Linked DNA regions of Homo sapiens: region 1 is linked to region 2. Evidence: fine-mapped expression QTL. Tissue or cell type: whole blood. Region 2 holds a variant in brackets; the other region holds the start of a gene. All regions are shown on one strand. Distances are between the middles of the regions.

Evidence for each region. PIP is the estimated chance that this variant, and not a neighbour inherited with it, causes the effect.
Region 1: it holds the start of NDEL1, and the variant in region 2 is fine-mapped to the expression of NDEL1 in whole blood (INTERVAL, PIP above 0.99).

The regions. Positions count from the first base shown.
Region 1 is chr17:8,432,282-8,440,462 of GRCh38, forward strand. It overlaps NDEL1 (nudE neurodevelopment protein 1 like 1), which reads left to right and starts at 3,603. Exons shown (of 9, transcript NM_030808.5): 1 at 3,603-3,764. RefSeq lists silencers at 3,407-3,576, 3,677-3,876, 3,917-4,156.
Region 2 is chr17:8,408,336-8,416,516 of GRCh38, forward strand. It overlaps a transcript of NDEL1 not described here. Among named protein-coding and RNA genes, the nearest start is that of RNF222, 15 kb to the left of the region's middle. RefSeq lists an enhancer at 1,956-2,250. The variant C/T (reference allele first, on the strand shown) is at 4,284.

The sequences.
Region 1 (8,181 bases), 24 kb after region 2:
AAAAATGGCTACCCTTTAAAGAGATATATATATATATTTATATATAAATATATATATTATATATAAATATAAATATAAATATATATATATTTAATGGCAGGCCAATATATATATATTTTTTGAGACAGAGTCTCGCTCTGTTGCCCAGGCTGGAGTGTAGTGGCGCGATCTCGGCTCACTGCAAGCTCCGCCTCCCGGGTTCATGCCATTCTCCTGCCTCAGCCTCCCAAGTAGCTGGGACTACAGGCGTCCACCACTACACCCAGCTAATTTTTTGGATTTTTAGTAGAGACGGGTTTTCACCGTGTTAGCCAGGATGGTCTCGATCTCCTGACCTCGTGATCCGCCTGCCTCGGCTTCCCAAAGTGCTGGGATTACAGGCATGAGCCACTGCGCCTGGCCTAAAGATTTTTTAAGATTAGGAAACAAAAAGTCTTCAGAGGGAGCCAAATTGGGACTGTAAGGTGATGTCTACTGATTTTCCACTGAAACTCTTGCAAAATTGCCCTTGTTTGATGAGAGAAATGAGCAGGAACTTTATCATGGTGGAAAGGTCTCTCTGATGAAGGTTTCCTGGGCATTTTTCCACTAAAGCTTTGGCTAATCTTCTCAAAACACTCTCGTAATAAGTACGTTATTATTCTTTAGCCCTCCAGAAAGCAAAATGCCTAGAACAACCCACAAAATGGTTGCCATGATTTTTGCTCTTGACTGGTTCACTTTGCTTTGACTGGACTACTTCCATCTCTTGGTAGCCACCGCTTTGTCTTCAGGATTGTACTGGTAAAGCGAAGTTTCATTCTTGGTTACAATTCTTCAAAAAAAAAAAAAGCTTCAGGATCTTGATCCCACTTGTTTAAAATGTGTGAAATTTTGAAAGCTCTGTTCTTGTCAGCAGCTGACCTGGGCACAATGGTTTTGCCACCCATTGGGTGGAAAGTTAGCTCAACTTTAATTTTTCAGTAAGGATTGTGTAGGCCAAATCTGTTGAGATATCTGTGGTGCTGGCTATTGTTTCTGCTGTTAATCATTGATCCTTTTCAATTAGCACATGAACAAGATTACTTTTTTTCCTCACAAATTGATGTGGAGGGTCTGCTGCTGTGGGCTTCATCTTCAACATCATCATGTTTCTTCTTAAAATGAATTATCCATTTGTAAACTGCTGACTTCTTTTGGGGCTTTGTCCTTTTACACTTTTATAAAGCGTCAATGATTCCACCATTTTTCCACCCAGGCTTCACCATAAATTTAGTATTTTGTATTGCTTCAATTTTGTAGAATATGTGTTCTGATAGGGACTCTCTTCAAACTGATTTCTTATCTTTCTTGGTGCTTCAAGCTAGATCCTGTTCAGACATGTTATAGCAAGTTAGAACAAATTTATTTTGGTGCAAACATTTATTTTATTTTTTTAGAGACAGGTGTCTCACTGTGCTGCCCAGGCTGGTCTCGAACTTCTGGGCTCAAGTGATCTGTCTACCTCAGCTTCCCAGAGTGCTGGGATTACAGGTATGGGCCACCATGCTTGGCCCTGTGCAAAAAAAAAATTGGAAATCCATGCATAGTTTTTTCATAATATGCATATTATTCATAATATTATTCATAATAGGCATATGTAATATGTTACCTTTCCCACAAACCCCATTAATCCCTTCTCTGATCTTTATTGATTTGGGTACCTCTTACAATCCATCTTGCATTGTTCCTGTTTATGTCCATCGCCCTCAAAAATATAAACTGGGCCTCCTAGGCTCACTTTGTTTTCACCTTGAGGCATGTCTTACACATTATTTTTGTGTTCACACCCACAAATCCAATCCTAAAAGCACTGAAATTGGAAAGGATTACATTGCGTGCCGCATGGAGGCTGGTGCCTGTAATCCCAGGACTTTGTGGGGGGCTGAGGTGGGAAGATTGCCTGAAGTCAGGAGTTCTTTTTTGTTTTGTTTTGTTTGTTTTTAGACGGAGTCTCACTCTGTCGCCCAGGTTAGAGTGCAGTGGTGCTCACTGCAACCTCCGCCTCCCGGGTTCGAGCGATTCTCCTGCCTCAGCCTCCGGAGTAGCTAGGATTACAGGTGCCCACCATCATGCCTGGCTAATTTTTGTACTTTTAGTAGAGACAGGGTTTCACCATGTTGGCCAGGCTGGTCTCGAAGTCCTGGCCTCAGGTGATTTGCCCGCCTCGGCTTCCCAAAGTGCTGCAGCGCCTGGCCGAAGTCAGGAGTTCTTGACCAGCCTGGGCAACACAGTAGACCCCATCTCCTAAAGGAAAGGATTACCTTGTACATTATACAGCAAAAGTTCTTAAAATTGTTTTTAAAATGTATCTCTTCCTTTAAGTTTCCACTCCCTATGTAAGTTGCCTATCCCTCTTTCCCTCCTTTTTGGGCTAGTATCGTCTCCAGCTTGCTTCCAAGTCCGCTAGGGAATACACACGCGCGCACACACACATACACGTGTGTGTTTACGTACTAAAAATATATAAACATTAATAATGCAAGATGGGGCCGGGCGCTGTGTCTCACGCCTGTAATCCCAGCACTTTGGGAGGCCGAGGCGGGCGGATCACGAGGTCAGGAGTTCGAGACCAGCCTGGCCAACATGGTGAAACCCCGTCTCTACTAAAAATACAAAAATTAGTCGGGCGTGGTGGCAGGCGCCTGTAATCCCAGCTACTAGGGAGGCTGAGGCAGGAGAATTGCTTAAACCTGGGAGGCGGAGGTTGCAGTGAGCCGAGATCGCGCCACTGCACTCCAGCCTGGGCAACAAGAGCGAAACTCCGTCTCAAAAACAAACAAACAAACAAACAAACAAAAACCAAGATGGATTGTAAGAGGTATATATATACACATAGGACTCCATTTCTTGGGGGACCTGGAGGGGAGAAAGTCACACCCATACACACACGTACACGCATGTATACAAAAATGAATATATGCTCAGATATATACAATATATAAATGGGCAAATATAAAATCCCCTTTGTGCCAACGAATCCATTCATTCATTCATCAAATATTTGAGCGTCCACTTTGCCTAGAACCAAGTTATCTGTTGGGATGAGCAAGGCATAAGAGGTTCTAGCTCTCATAGAACTTAGAATTCTACTGGAGGAAGATGAGAACAAATACAAAATGTAAACAGTGGAAGTTCTGTAAAAACAACACAGAGCTTTGTGAGAGTGATGCTTAGAATGCTCCTGATGTTCCATTGGGTGTTCGAGCAGGGGGAATGGACTCGGAGGTGAACTATGAGCCGAGATTCATTTTATAAACGGGAACACAGACACATGGACACTTGAAGGGCCTTGGTGGCCAGAAAACTGAAGGCAGGTTCCCATCCGTCTTGGCACCACTCTCCCGAATAGCAGTTTCAGGGAACTGCACAAGCCAAAACCAGCCGGTCGCAGAGTCCAGGAGCGCCTGCGCAAGAGGACGCCTGCGCAAGAGGACGCCGTCAGCTTGGCGTCAGCGCGCCGGGCTCTGGCCCGCCCCCTGTGACACCAGCCCCGCCCCACCCCGCCCCGCATACCCGTGCGCTGCCGCGCATGCTCCGAGCCCCGCCCCCGTGCGTCACAGAATGGCCTCGGACACCCAGGCAGTCCCTGACGTGTCGGGGAGGAGCCGGGCGCGGAGGTACGCTGAGTGGAGCTCGGGGCTGCGTAGGGGAGCTGAGCCGAGCGGCTGGGCGGGCCTGGCCGGGCCGGCGGAGGGGAGACGTCGGTTGAGCGGCGGCGAACATGCGCTTTTGACACATTGGAGGTGAGCCTGCAGCGCGGGGCCGCTCCCTAAGGGGCTGCGCTGGGCCGGCGGCGCCGAGGCCTGCCCTTGGGGAGCCTTCCCGGCCCGGGGCCGTGTCTGAGGCTCCGCCGGGGCGGGCCGGGCCGGGTTCCGGGGCGGCCAGCCTGGGGGCAACTGTTCCAACCGCTCTAACTGTCCCCTCCCTTCCCTGGTCCGATGTGTGGCCCCCCAGGGGCGCCTGCAAGGGAACGATTCCGGTGGCCTCCGGAAGATGTGCCCCGTTCCGGGTAGGGTGAGGGCTGGCGGTGACGGAGGCCGGGACGTGGCACCGTGGGCTGGGGCGCTGGCGGCGCAAGGAGTGGCCCAGTCGGAGGTGGCAGCGGCGCGCCCAGCCCGCCTCCTCCTACCCCCTCTTCGAAATTCCTTCATTTGCGAGGGTGGCTTGGAGCGGGGTTGCATTTTGATCTCTCAGTGCCTCTCTCCCATGGGGGGCGAGAGCGCGAGCAGCCCACGTTGGGCTCGGATTGGCATTCTCCTGACTCCCGCCCGGAACTGCTAATCATCCTCCCCCTGGAGTTCGGCAAAGTGTCACCAACGGGCTCGGGTTACTTGTGCTCGACTCTTTTCTTGCTGTAAGCCATGAGATGACCCTTTAAGTTTTGCAAAGGAGGTGAGAGTTCTGTCACCACTGATTATTACCTTCTATTTACGTAGCACCTTTACACGTTTCAGAGCACTCTTCTTCCTATCTTTTTCTAACCGCATCACCTTGTGGTTGCAACTGATTATGTTATCGCCATTTCGATGGGTAAATGGAGCTGGGATGGGGGTAATTATTTATACTTAGGTTCAACCAACTGGTGAGTGGTTTAGCTTGGATCATAATTTACATTTCTAGGCTCGGAGTTCTGGTTTCTTTTCGTGGGATTTTTATACCCTTCTCAGCTACAAAACAAGGCAGAAAATGTGACTTGCCAAAGATATGCCAGAAGCTGGTAGATTACTTACTCAATTATTTTTGAGAAAACTCACCTAGGATAAAAACGGCTGCTCAGTCATGAGAAAAATCTTCCTGTGAAGCTTGTTCAGGAGTTGCTGGTTAATTGCTTTGCTAAATCGTGAAGTTGATGGGCACAGTGCAGCGTTAAGTCATGGGCTGAAGAGAAGTAAAGGGAAACCAAGTGAAGTATTTCTTCTGAATTATTATTAAAATTATTGTTATTTAAAATTAGAGTGCGTGAGAAACAAAACCTTTGGCCAGCCCTGGTTAGAGGTTGACTTGATCCAGATAGAAGTTGCTAAATCTTCTGAAGCTGTAGTTCTTTTGATTTTTTTAAATTAAATAAATTGAAGTTGGATAAAGAGCTTAAAATAAGTAGGAACCTTAGTAAAACTTAGATCTTGCTTTCATGACATCTGCAAAACAACTTATTTTTGTTTTCATTTTAAACCATGCTGGGATAAATTTGGTTACTAAAGCTTAAAATTACTTCTGACGTAAGTTTCTGAGCACTCCATAAAGTAAAAAAGAAGTCTGATAGAATCAAAGAGAGACCGTGTTTATGATCAACTTTGAAGAGTTAAAAATTCTGTAAATGTCACCTTTGAGAGTAGTAGAATTTCAGTAAAAAGGCATATATTGCCAACAGTGAGTTCTGAAAGAACTCTTCTAACGTCAGTCCATTTTAGAACTGTTAACCAGAAACAATATCATTGAAAATAGATTTTCTTACCATTGTACAAAGAATAATTTCCTTGTAAATAAAAGGCATTTTGGACAGGCTGTTTTAAACTCAAATGAGTTGATTGTTGCTAGATTTCTGAAGGTCATACACAGTATGATAATGCTTTACGTAAAAATTGTCATGCTTTTGAGACTGTGTCCGTATTGAGATCTGGTATTAAAGAAAGATGGGGTGGGGGCGGGCAGAGAATAATAATTTTTTTTTTCTTTGATGGAGTCTCCCTCTGTTGCCCAGGCTGGAGTGCAGTGGCACAATCTCGGCTCACTGCAACCTCCACCTCCTGGATTCAAGCGATTCTCCTGCCTCAGCCTCCTGAGTAGCTGGGATTACAGGTGCGCACCACGATGCCCTGCTAATTTTTGTATATTTAGTAGAGACAGGGTTTCACCATGTTGGTCAGGCTGGTCTCGAACTCCTCACCTCGTGATCCGCCTGCCTCAGCCTCACAAAGTGCTGGGATTACAGGCGTGAGCCACCGTGCCCTGCCAATAATACATAATTATCTATCTTCATTCTAGCTTCAGAAAATTGTGGATGTACCATTAGAGCATTGTTTTAGCAGTATGTTTTCTATATTAGCTAACTTTCTATAGCCTGAATATCTCCAGTTACATAGTTTGAAATAAGTGAACACATCCTCCCAGTGTAACTTGAAGCAAACTGAACAGACTGTATAACAGCCCCTGAAACTGTCGTTTGAGTATCTGCAGTGGTAGCAAATTTTATTATTTGTAAATAATCTGATTTTTATTTTTATTTTTTTGGAGGCAGGGTCTCATTTTGTCACCCAGGCTGGAGTGCAGTGGAGTGATTACAGCTTACTGCAGCCTCAACTTCCTGGACTCAAGCGATCCTCCCACCACAGTCTCACGAGTAGCTGGGACCACAGGTGCATGCCACCACACCCAGCTCATTTTTGTATTTTTGTTAGAGATGGGGTTTCAGCATGTTGTCCAGGCTGGCCTTGAAGTTCCAGGCTCAACTGACATTCCCACCTCAGCCTTCCAAGTGCTGGGATTAATATGCGCGAGCCACTGTGCCTGGCCAGAATCTGATTTTTAAAAAGAGTAAATCTGATGGGTAAAAGTAGGGCAATAGAGCTGGATAATACCAGTTAGGAAGCAATAAAGATGAGGTGTGACCACAAAGTAAGAAGTTTTTGCTTTGTTCTTTTTTTTTTTTTTTGAAACGGAGTCTCTCTCTGTCACCCAGGCTGGAGTGGAGTGCGGTCGCGCGCTCTCGGCTCACTGCAAGTTCTGCCTCCCGGGTTCACGCCATTCTCCTGCCTCAGCCTCCCGAGTAGCTGGGACTGCAGGTGCCCACCACCACGCCCAGCTAGTTTTTTGTGTTTTTAGTAGAGACGGGGTTTCACCATGTTAGCAGGATAGTCTCAATCTCCTGACCTCGTGATCCGCCCGCCTCGGCCTCCCAAAGTGCTGGGATTACAGGTGTGAGCCACTGTGCCCGGCCTTTTTTTTTTTCTTTTATTTGAGATGGAATCTCACCCTTTTGCCCAGGCTGGAGTGCAGTGGCCAATCTCGGCTCACTGCAACCTCCTCCTCCCGGGTTTGAGCGATTCTCCTGCCTCAGCCTCCTGAGTAGCTGGGATTACAGGTGCCGGCCACCATACCCAGCTAATTTTTTTTTTTTTTTTTCATATTTTCGGTATAGACGAGGTTTCACCATGTTGGCCAGGCTGGTCTTGAACTCCTAACCTCAAGTGATCCGCCTGCCTCAGCCTCCCAAAGTGCTAGGATTATAGGCATGAGCCACCGCGCCTGGCCTGCTTTGTTCGCCTGCTTTGTTCTTAATGTGGCTCATAAAGGCTATTCCAAAAAAGAAGTTTTGGAAATGTTTTTCAGCAATGGTGATATCACTGGAATATGCATATATTCCTGAAATGATCAGTTTTAAAGAATCATTTGCATGTTTTAAATTTTGAAGCCTGTTTACTTTGTGGTCATACTTGAAAGGTCTGCTATCGAACTACCAATTTTTAATAGCTTGATGAACATTTAGGTTTTTACTATGTGCCAGGTTCTGTCCTAAGTACTTTACAAATATTAGCTCACTTCATAAGCTCATTCTAATGATTATCCCCATTTTACAGGTGAGGAAATGGGGCACTGAGTCATTAAGTCACTTGCCCAAGGTCACCCAAGTAGTGAGTAGATGCATCAGTAGCGAGTCTGAACTTCCAGGTCTGACTTCAGACTTGGGCAGTTTGGCTTCCCGGTCTGGGCTCTTAACCACTATGCTATGCTGCTCCTATGACTTATTCTTGGTTAAATGTTTTAAATTGTTTTGATCTGGAAGAGATGATGGTCCTTTTAGTAAATGATATCCAACATAGGTTATAATACTGTTAGAGGGGCCAATAAGCGGGTTATGAAAATAGCCTATTGATTAGAAAAGTTGTGGTCAACATTCAATTCACATGAGATTCAGCAAGAAAATAAAGAATGTGACCAGGCGCGGTGGCTCATGCCTGTAATCCCAGCACTTTGGGAGGCCGAGGAGGGCAGATCACGAGGTCAGGAGTTCGAGACAGCCTGGCCAACATGGTGAAACCGTGTCCTACTAAAAATACAAAAATTAGCCAGGTATGGTGGTGGGTGCTTGTAATCCCAGCTACTTAGGAGGCCGAGGCAAGAGAATTGCTTGAACCTGGGAGTCAGAGGTTGCAGTGAACT
Region 2 (8,181 bases):
GGCTGAGCCCAAGGCCCGGGTGAAATGCTTGACCCGAGAGCCCTTTCGATGGGAAACCACTGAAGTGGATCAAACAAAAGAATTCAGAGAAAAGTAGCTTGGACTCTTTCAACAGGATGAAACTAGCAAGGAAGGACGGTGACCCGAGGGTGCGGGCTGGGGAGGAAGTGGAGACAGCAGGGCGGGACACCAGGTGAGCAGAAAGGGGCTGAGTCATGGCCCAAGCTTGTGCCAGCCGGGGCAGCGCGGGGCTGCACTCCTGGCACCCACCTCACGGATTCCCTCTCACTGTTGTCAAGTGACCCACTCCCGGGGCAGAGATGCTTCAGGACAGGCGGGGGAGGGAAGCCACCAAGACAGTGGAGAGGTTTGTTCTCAGGGACACGGCAGCATTTGGAGAAACAGTGCTTGACGTGAGCTGGCCGCCTTGGAGGATTTTCTGAGTTGGCAGTGTTCATCCCAGGGCTTAAATCCTCCCGGACAGCTAGGAGGCCTCAATTCTTGAGACAGGTAAGGCCCGGGTCAGGGACAGAGTTCAGAGTAAGAACAATCTTATTTTCGGATGATAAAAATAGCACTACTATTGAAAAAAAATGTGGAAAATTTTAACACACACATAAACACACACGCACACACACACACACACACACACACACACACAATACAAGCTGTACACCACTTCTACAGAAAACTACCATTAATATTTTGGTGTTTATTCCAGCGTGCATATATATATATAGCCATATAATATATAATTATGTTAAAATGTATAGTTGTATTTATACATATGATATATAATTATTTTTAAGATAAATGAGGTCACATTGTATGAATGCTTTTGGGACCTTTTTTTTTTTTTCAATTGTTAACTTTTAATCCCAATAAACATTCTTTTAGATCCTCTTTTTAAATAGATGTAGTAATTTGCTTAATTAATCTCATGTTGATTCATATTTAGGTTGTTTCCAATTTTTCCCTATTATAAAAATTGTTGGCCGGGCGCAGTGGCTCATGCCTGTAATCCCAGCACTTTGGGAGGCCGAGGTGGGCGGATCACCTGAAGTCAGGAGTTCGAAACCAGCCTTGACCATCATGGTGAAACCCTGTCTCTACTAAAAATACAAAAATTACCTGGGCATCATGGCATCCACCTGTAATCCCAGCTACTAGGGAGACTGAGGCAGGAGAATCGCTTGAACCCGGGAGGTGGGGGTTGCGGTGCGCTGAGATGGCGCCATTGCACTCCAGCTTGGGCAACAAGGGTGAAACTCCATCTCAAAAAAAAAAAAAAAAAGTCTGCAGTAAGTGTTTTTACTGCAATATATTGGTGGTATTTCCTTAAAATAAATTACTAGCAATGGAATCGATAACTCAAAGGATAATATTGTTTTAAGGCCTTGTGATAAATATTGTAAATTTGCCTTTTAGGAAGGTTGTGCCTTCCTAAATGAGGTCATGAGGTCAGGAGTTCGAGACCAGCCTGACCAACATGGTGAAACCCCGTCTCTACTAAAAATACAAAAATTAGCTGGGTGTGGTGGCACGCTCCTGTAATCCCAGCTACTCAGGAGGCTGAGGCAGGAGAATCGCTTGAACCCGGGAGGTGGAGGTTGCAGTGAGCCGAGATCACGCCACTGTACTCTAGTCCGGGTGACAGAGCGAGACTCTGTCTCAAAAAAAAAAAAAGAATGTCCATGTGAATGTTGCAAACGCTTTCTTATAGGGACCAGTATTAAATCTTTGTGGTTTTACCCTGAGTCAGAACACTAAGAGCCTGGTTTATTTACTGACCACTTGCTTTGACGCTCGTGAGAAGGCTGTTCTGTTGAAGTCGTAATGCTTTGCACCCAGTAGGAGCTCAACAAATGCCTAATGAGCTGAACTCAATTGAGAAGGTCAAGGGGCTAAGCAAACATGGGGGTGCTGCATCATTGCCATTTAGAGAGTAACGAGTTATCTGAACCAGCGACAGGAATAGTGAATGGTGAGTGTTGAAGGGGCAGAAATAAAGAACCAAGGGATCCGTTACAGAAGGCTCAGACCTTGAGCTGCAGCTTTGAGAGGGAATGCCTGGAGCCGAAATGAGCGATACATACCTAATCACGGCCAGCAGGTGGCGCTCTAAAGATGTCTCGTTGCTATCCAGACTCCCAGCCAAGATCTTGCTGGAGCACCGGGAAGTGGAAACTGAGTGAGGCATGGGGAACCTCTCAGCCCTAACTTTTTGCGCTGTGCTTCCTCCGGAAGTGCAGTTCCCAAGATCAGGAGCCCTGTAGGTATTTTTGCTTTGTTTTCCTATGCTTGTTTGGCTTGTGGGTGTCTCTGTAGAGCACCATCCATTCAATTCAGTTTCGAACAGTATGGTCTCGAACTTTGATGAGCAAACCCTCACCTGCTTCTCTTGTGAAAATGCAAATTCTGATTCAGTAGAACTGGGGTGGGGCCTGAGATTCTGCATTTCTAACAAGCTCCCTGGTGATGACTCATGCCCAGTAGTTCTAAAATTTGTTAGAACATGCTGTGTAAAGTTCCATCTCTATGCAATATGGGAGGTGAGAGAGAAGCAAATCCAGGCTCTTCTCTCAAAGGGTTTACCAGAGTGAACACAATTTCACAGAAATGTCTGAAATACAAGTTAGAGTGTGAGCCCACTCACGGCATGACCTTGGGCAAGTTGCATGACTTCTTTGGGTCTCAGTTTCCTCATCTGTAAAATGGGAATAGTAATAGCCTCTACCTTAGAAAGTTACTTGAGAATTAAAGCAGGATATTGTACATAAAACACTTGCACAGTGGCTAGCACATAGTAAACCTCAACAAGGCTTGGGGCACCCTAAAGCAGTATGGAGTCAGGCAGGTTACCCTGGCAGGGTGGTAAATTGGAGGAAGCAAGTGGTGGGGGTCAATCCTTAAGAAGGCGCCATCTTGGGTTGGGTGCATTGGCTCGCGCCTGTAATCCCAGCACTTTGGGAGGCTGAGGCGGGTGGATCATGAGGTGAGGAGTTCAAGACCAGCCTGGCCAAAATGGTGAAACCCCGTCTCTACTAAAAATATATAAACTAGCCAGGTATGGTGGTGGGCGCCTGTAATCCCAGCTACTCAGGAGGCTGAGGCAGAGAATTGCTTGAAGCCGGGAGGTGGAGGTTGCAGTGGGCCAAGATCGCACCACTGCACTCCAGCTTGGGTGAAGAGGATGCCATCTCAGTTGTCAGGATATCCATCATCTGAGAAGAAGGGTGTCAGGAGGTGAGGACAGAGAGCCAGGAAGAGGTCAGGTGCCTTGATTAGCAGGTGGCAAACCCAAGAGCTGCTTTTGAGGGGGATTTAAGTGTGCTGAGGCTAAGCAGGAAGCAGCCTTCCTTCTGGAGATGGAGGTGGGCAGGATTTCCAGGCAGATCAAGCAGCGGCTTTCCACACACGCCCCTATTTCACATCTTTAGGAGCTTTAGGAACTTGCGAGAGGAGCTAAGAGGAGCCAAGTGTCACCCTGATCCTGCCTGCGTGCATGGCTTTGCCACATCCTGTAAAAGCCTCAGTCCCACTGCTATGGATTCCTCAGCCCAGGTCCCTAAGTTTACCCACATGCTTTAAATAGGGGTGATGTTTCTATGAACCTCTAAGATCCACAAATATTTATGGACTTAACCTCCAGGGCTCTGATGAGTGCCCCTGGGGATACAGAGACAAATCCACACAGCCCCTACCTTCACGGCTGACCCTGGGGAGAAAAGACATCACCCCGGGAAAAGGAAAAGAATGATTAGTGAAGGGTCTCCTAGCCCTTCTTAACAATGGTGCTTCTTCTAGATCGTAAGACTAATTGATGCATGAGACCTACAGCCACTGCAGAGGCAAGAGTGTTCAGGGGACTCTTTAGACCAGGGTGTCTGACCTAATAAAGCCATAAGGAGTGAGTCAGATCTGATAGGGCTGGAAGGGGACAACCACTAACAGCTAAAGGGACTAATTGGACTTGGGTGGAGCCAATTACGCACGTTATCTCATTTAAGCCCTACAAAATACTATGAGGTCAGTACCAGCATTGTTTCCGTTTATAGATGAGGCAAATGAGACTCAGAGAGCAAAGCAACTTGCTCAAGTTCTTTTTTTGTTGAGATGGAGTCTTGCTCTGTCGCCCAAGCTGGAGTGCAGTGGCACAATCTTGGCTCACTGCAACCTCCGCCTCCCGGGTTCAAGTGATTCTCCTGCCTCAGCCTCCCGAGTACGTGGGATTACAGGTGTGTGCCACCATGCCTGGCTAATTTTTGTATTTTTAGTAGAGA[C/T]AGGATTTCACCATGTTGGCCAGGCTGTTCTTGAACTCCTGACCTTAGGTGATCCACTCGCCTCGGCCTCCCAAAGTGCTGGGATTACAGGTGTCAGCCACCGTGCCCGGTTTCAAGTTCTCACAGCTACAAGTGGCAGGTGGAGGCTATGGGACAAGTTCATTCTCTTGTGTACCATGTTATGTGCTTGGCCCTTGTGGAGAGACAAACAACACTGGCATTCACTGTCTCCCCACCTTAAGTAGTGACAGCTCTTCCCCATGCCTTTACCCTCCAAATACGGGGATGAAGGCAGGAAAGTGGAGGAGAGAACAGGACATCTGTCTGGAAGACCAGTGGCTTCCAAACTACACATGCAGGGGAGATGGGAAGGCTGAAGGCCTGGCTGAGAACTTGAATTTCTTCTTTCCTTCCCGAAGCACTGAAGTCTTGCTCAACCCCAGCTGAGTGATGAGGCGGGCAGGGTTGCCTCACTTCAGGGCAGCAGGCCCCAGCCTTCCTGGCTCTAATCCATTTCCCATCCTTGCGTATCTTTGGTCGGACGGTGATTCTCACTCTTCCTATTGACTTCTACTTTGTGTCAGCAAGTTCAGCGTGGGCCCCGTATGCTGCCGTGGATCTGATCAGCTGAGGCCTGAGACACAGGACCAGGTACATTGGGAGGAAAGAGCTGATTGGAGAAGGTCTGGGCCACATGAGGGTTTGCCTGAGAGATGCCAGAATGGGGGGCTCCTGATGTCTGAGGACCCTCTGTGCCCATGAGGCAGGCGGATTGTCAAAGGCTGAGGTCCATTTGGAAAGTTGGTTATGTCCCTGTGGCATGAGGGTTGGGTGACATAAAGAGACGGCTTTGGTGGTTTCCTGAAACCATATCATTTGCGCACATCTTCCCCCTGATATTCTGATCACCTTGATTTGGTTTCCTATTTCCTGAACTGCCCACATAGCATTTTTCTGGGTTGCAGAGGGAGTTCATAGGGTTCTGACAGGTTTATCTGGAGCCAACAGAGACAGTCAGTGAGATGCACTGAAGCCATGCTGAGCTGACCAAGTTAGGGGCTTGCGATCATGTCCTGGGACCTTGACTTCACTGCTCATGGGCCATTTGCTTCCCTCTGAACGTGTTTTCTCATCTACAAAATGTAAGACATCTCTATTTTTTTGGATGTTTGTAAACTTAAGCAGAATGATGATTGTGAAGGTGTTTTGTAAACTGTATGATTGTATTCTTCAGGGTTTGGGGTTACTTTTATTTCATTTTGTAAATGGAACTAGATGATTTTTCCTGATAATATAATATCTGATAAAAATTTAATCAGTACAGAGACATTGAAAGTGTTTGCATAATTCTATCTCTAAAGATTAATATTTTGGCATATAGACATCTAGACTTTTAAATGAATATTTTTATGTCAAATTCTACTTACTGTCTTTCAACCTTTTTTTCACTTAATAGTATCTCTTGAGTGTCATCTCTTGTTAATTCATAATTATCTACCTTGTCCTTTTTAACAGCTATGTAGTATTCCATTGTGTGGCTGTACCATGATTTATTAAACCAGTCTCCTATTGGTGGGTGTTTAGGGTGTTTCCAATTTATTTCTATAATAATAAACAGTGCCACAGTAAACATCACTGAATGTACATCTTTGCATACTATTATTTCCTTAGAATAAATCCTTAGATGTTGGATTGCTAGGTGAAAGGTTGTACATATATTTAGTTTTCATTCATTTGTCCAGATTCCCTTAAGAAATGTCGTACCATGGCCGGGCGCGGTGGCTCACGCCTGTAATCCCAGCACTTTGGGAGGCCAAGGCTGGCGGATCATGAGGTCAGGATATCGAGACCATCCTGGCTAACATGGTGAAACCCCGTCTCTACTAAAAATACAAAAAATTAGCCGGGCGTGGTGTTGGGCACCTGTAGTCCCAGCTACCCGGGAGGCTGAGGCAGGAGAATGGTGTGAACTTGGGAGGCGGAGCTGGCAGTGAGCTGAGATCGCGCCACTGCACTCTAGCCTGGACGACAGAGCGAGACTCCATCTCAAAAAAAAAAAGTGTCATACCATCTTATTTATTTATTTGAGGCCGGGTCTTGCTATGTTGCCCAGCCTGGTGTGAAACACTGGCCTCAAGAGATCCTCCCACCTCAGCCTCCTGAGTAGCTGGGATTACAGGCTTGAGCCACTGTACCTTCATTTGCTTAGTTTTTAGATACATATCACTGATTCCTCTCTAACAGACCTATAAAATTCCTGGCAATATGATCAACACATTAGATTATCTCTCAGTCTCTATTATCTATTAGATTATCTCTCAGTCTCTTTCTCTTATTCCTCAGAGACATCTGCCTGGTGCCTCATCCTACTGCTCCCTCTTGGATTGGTTTCTCCCCAGGACTGCTGAATGTTGTCATCTTAGGAGTTCCCTTTTCTCTTTCTTGTGTGAATCCTCTCTCTTTTGGATACCACCTTCCTTTCTTCCTCCCTCCCTCCCTCCCTCCCTCCTGCCTCTTCTCTCTTTCTGTCTCTCTGTCTCCCTCTCTCCCTCTCTCTTTCTCTCTTTCTTTCTTTTTTGAGATGGGATCTTGCTCTGTTGCCCAGGCTGGAGTGCAGTGGTGCGATCACAGCTTACTACAGTCTTGAATTCCCGGGCTTAAGCCATCCTCCCACCTCAGCCTGCCAAGTAGCTGGGGCCACAGGTGTCTGCCATCATACTTGGCTAATTTTTTGCATTTTTTTAGAGACGAGGTTTTGCCACTTTTTAATTTATATGTATACTTTTTTTTGCCACTTTATAGTTTTAACATTTATTTATTTATTTATTTATTTAGAGATAGGGTCTCACTCTGTTGCCCAGGCTGGAGTGCAGTGGCGCAATCACAGCTCACTGCAGCCTCGACCTCCCTGGGCTCGGGTGATTCTCTTAGCTCAGCCTCCTGAGTAGCTGGGACTACAGGCACGTGCTGCCATACTTGGCTGATTTTTGTATTTTTTGTAGAGACAGGGCTTCACCATGTTGCCTAGGCTGTTCTGGAACTCCTGGGCTCTTGCCTCGGTCTCCCAGCGCTGGGATTACAGGCGTGAGACACCTATTTTCCATTTTTAATGTGCCTTGCCCATTTTACATTTTTTATTGTGGTAAATAGATGGAGTCTCGCACTGTTGCCCAGGCTGGAGTGTGATGGCGCGATCTCAGTTCACTGCAACCTCTGTCTCCCAGGTTCAAGCGATTCTCCTGCCTCAGCCTCCTGAGTAGCCGGGATTACAGGCGCCTGCCACCATGTCCGGCTACTTTTTTGTATTTTTAGTAGAGATGGGGTTTCACCATGATGGCCAGGCTGGTCTTGAACACCTGACCTCGTGATCCACCCGTCTCCGCCTCCCAAAGTGCTGGGATTACAGGCATGAGCCACCGCGCCTGGCCCATTTTAATCATTTTTAAGCGTACAGTTCAGTGGCATTAAGTACGTTCACATTGTTGTGCTTACTGTCACCACCACCCATCTCCAGAACTTCTTCATCTTCCCAAACTGAAACTCTGTACCCATTAAGCACTGAATCCCCATTTTCCCCTCCCTCCCAGGCCCTGGCAACCATCATTCTACTTTCCGTTTCTATGAATTTCACTCTTCTAATTACCTCATATGAGGAGAATCATACAGTACTTGTCTGTTTGTATGGATCTCACATTTTCCCCTTTATTTTCTTCCCTGTTTTGGTGACATGCATCTTCCAATGACAGGAGGTAATTTTGATAGGTTTTGACTATCTGGAAACAGTCCTTCATTCTATTCTTATACTTGTTGAAGGGTCTGGCTTGATTTAGAATACTTGTTGGAAATGATTTTTTTCTCTGAATGTTAAAGGCAATGGTTCATTGTTTTCAAGCTTCTA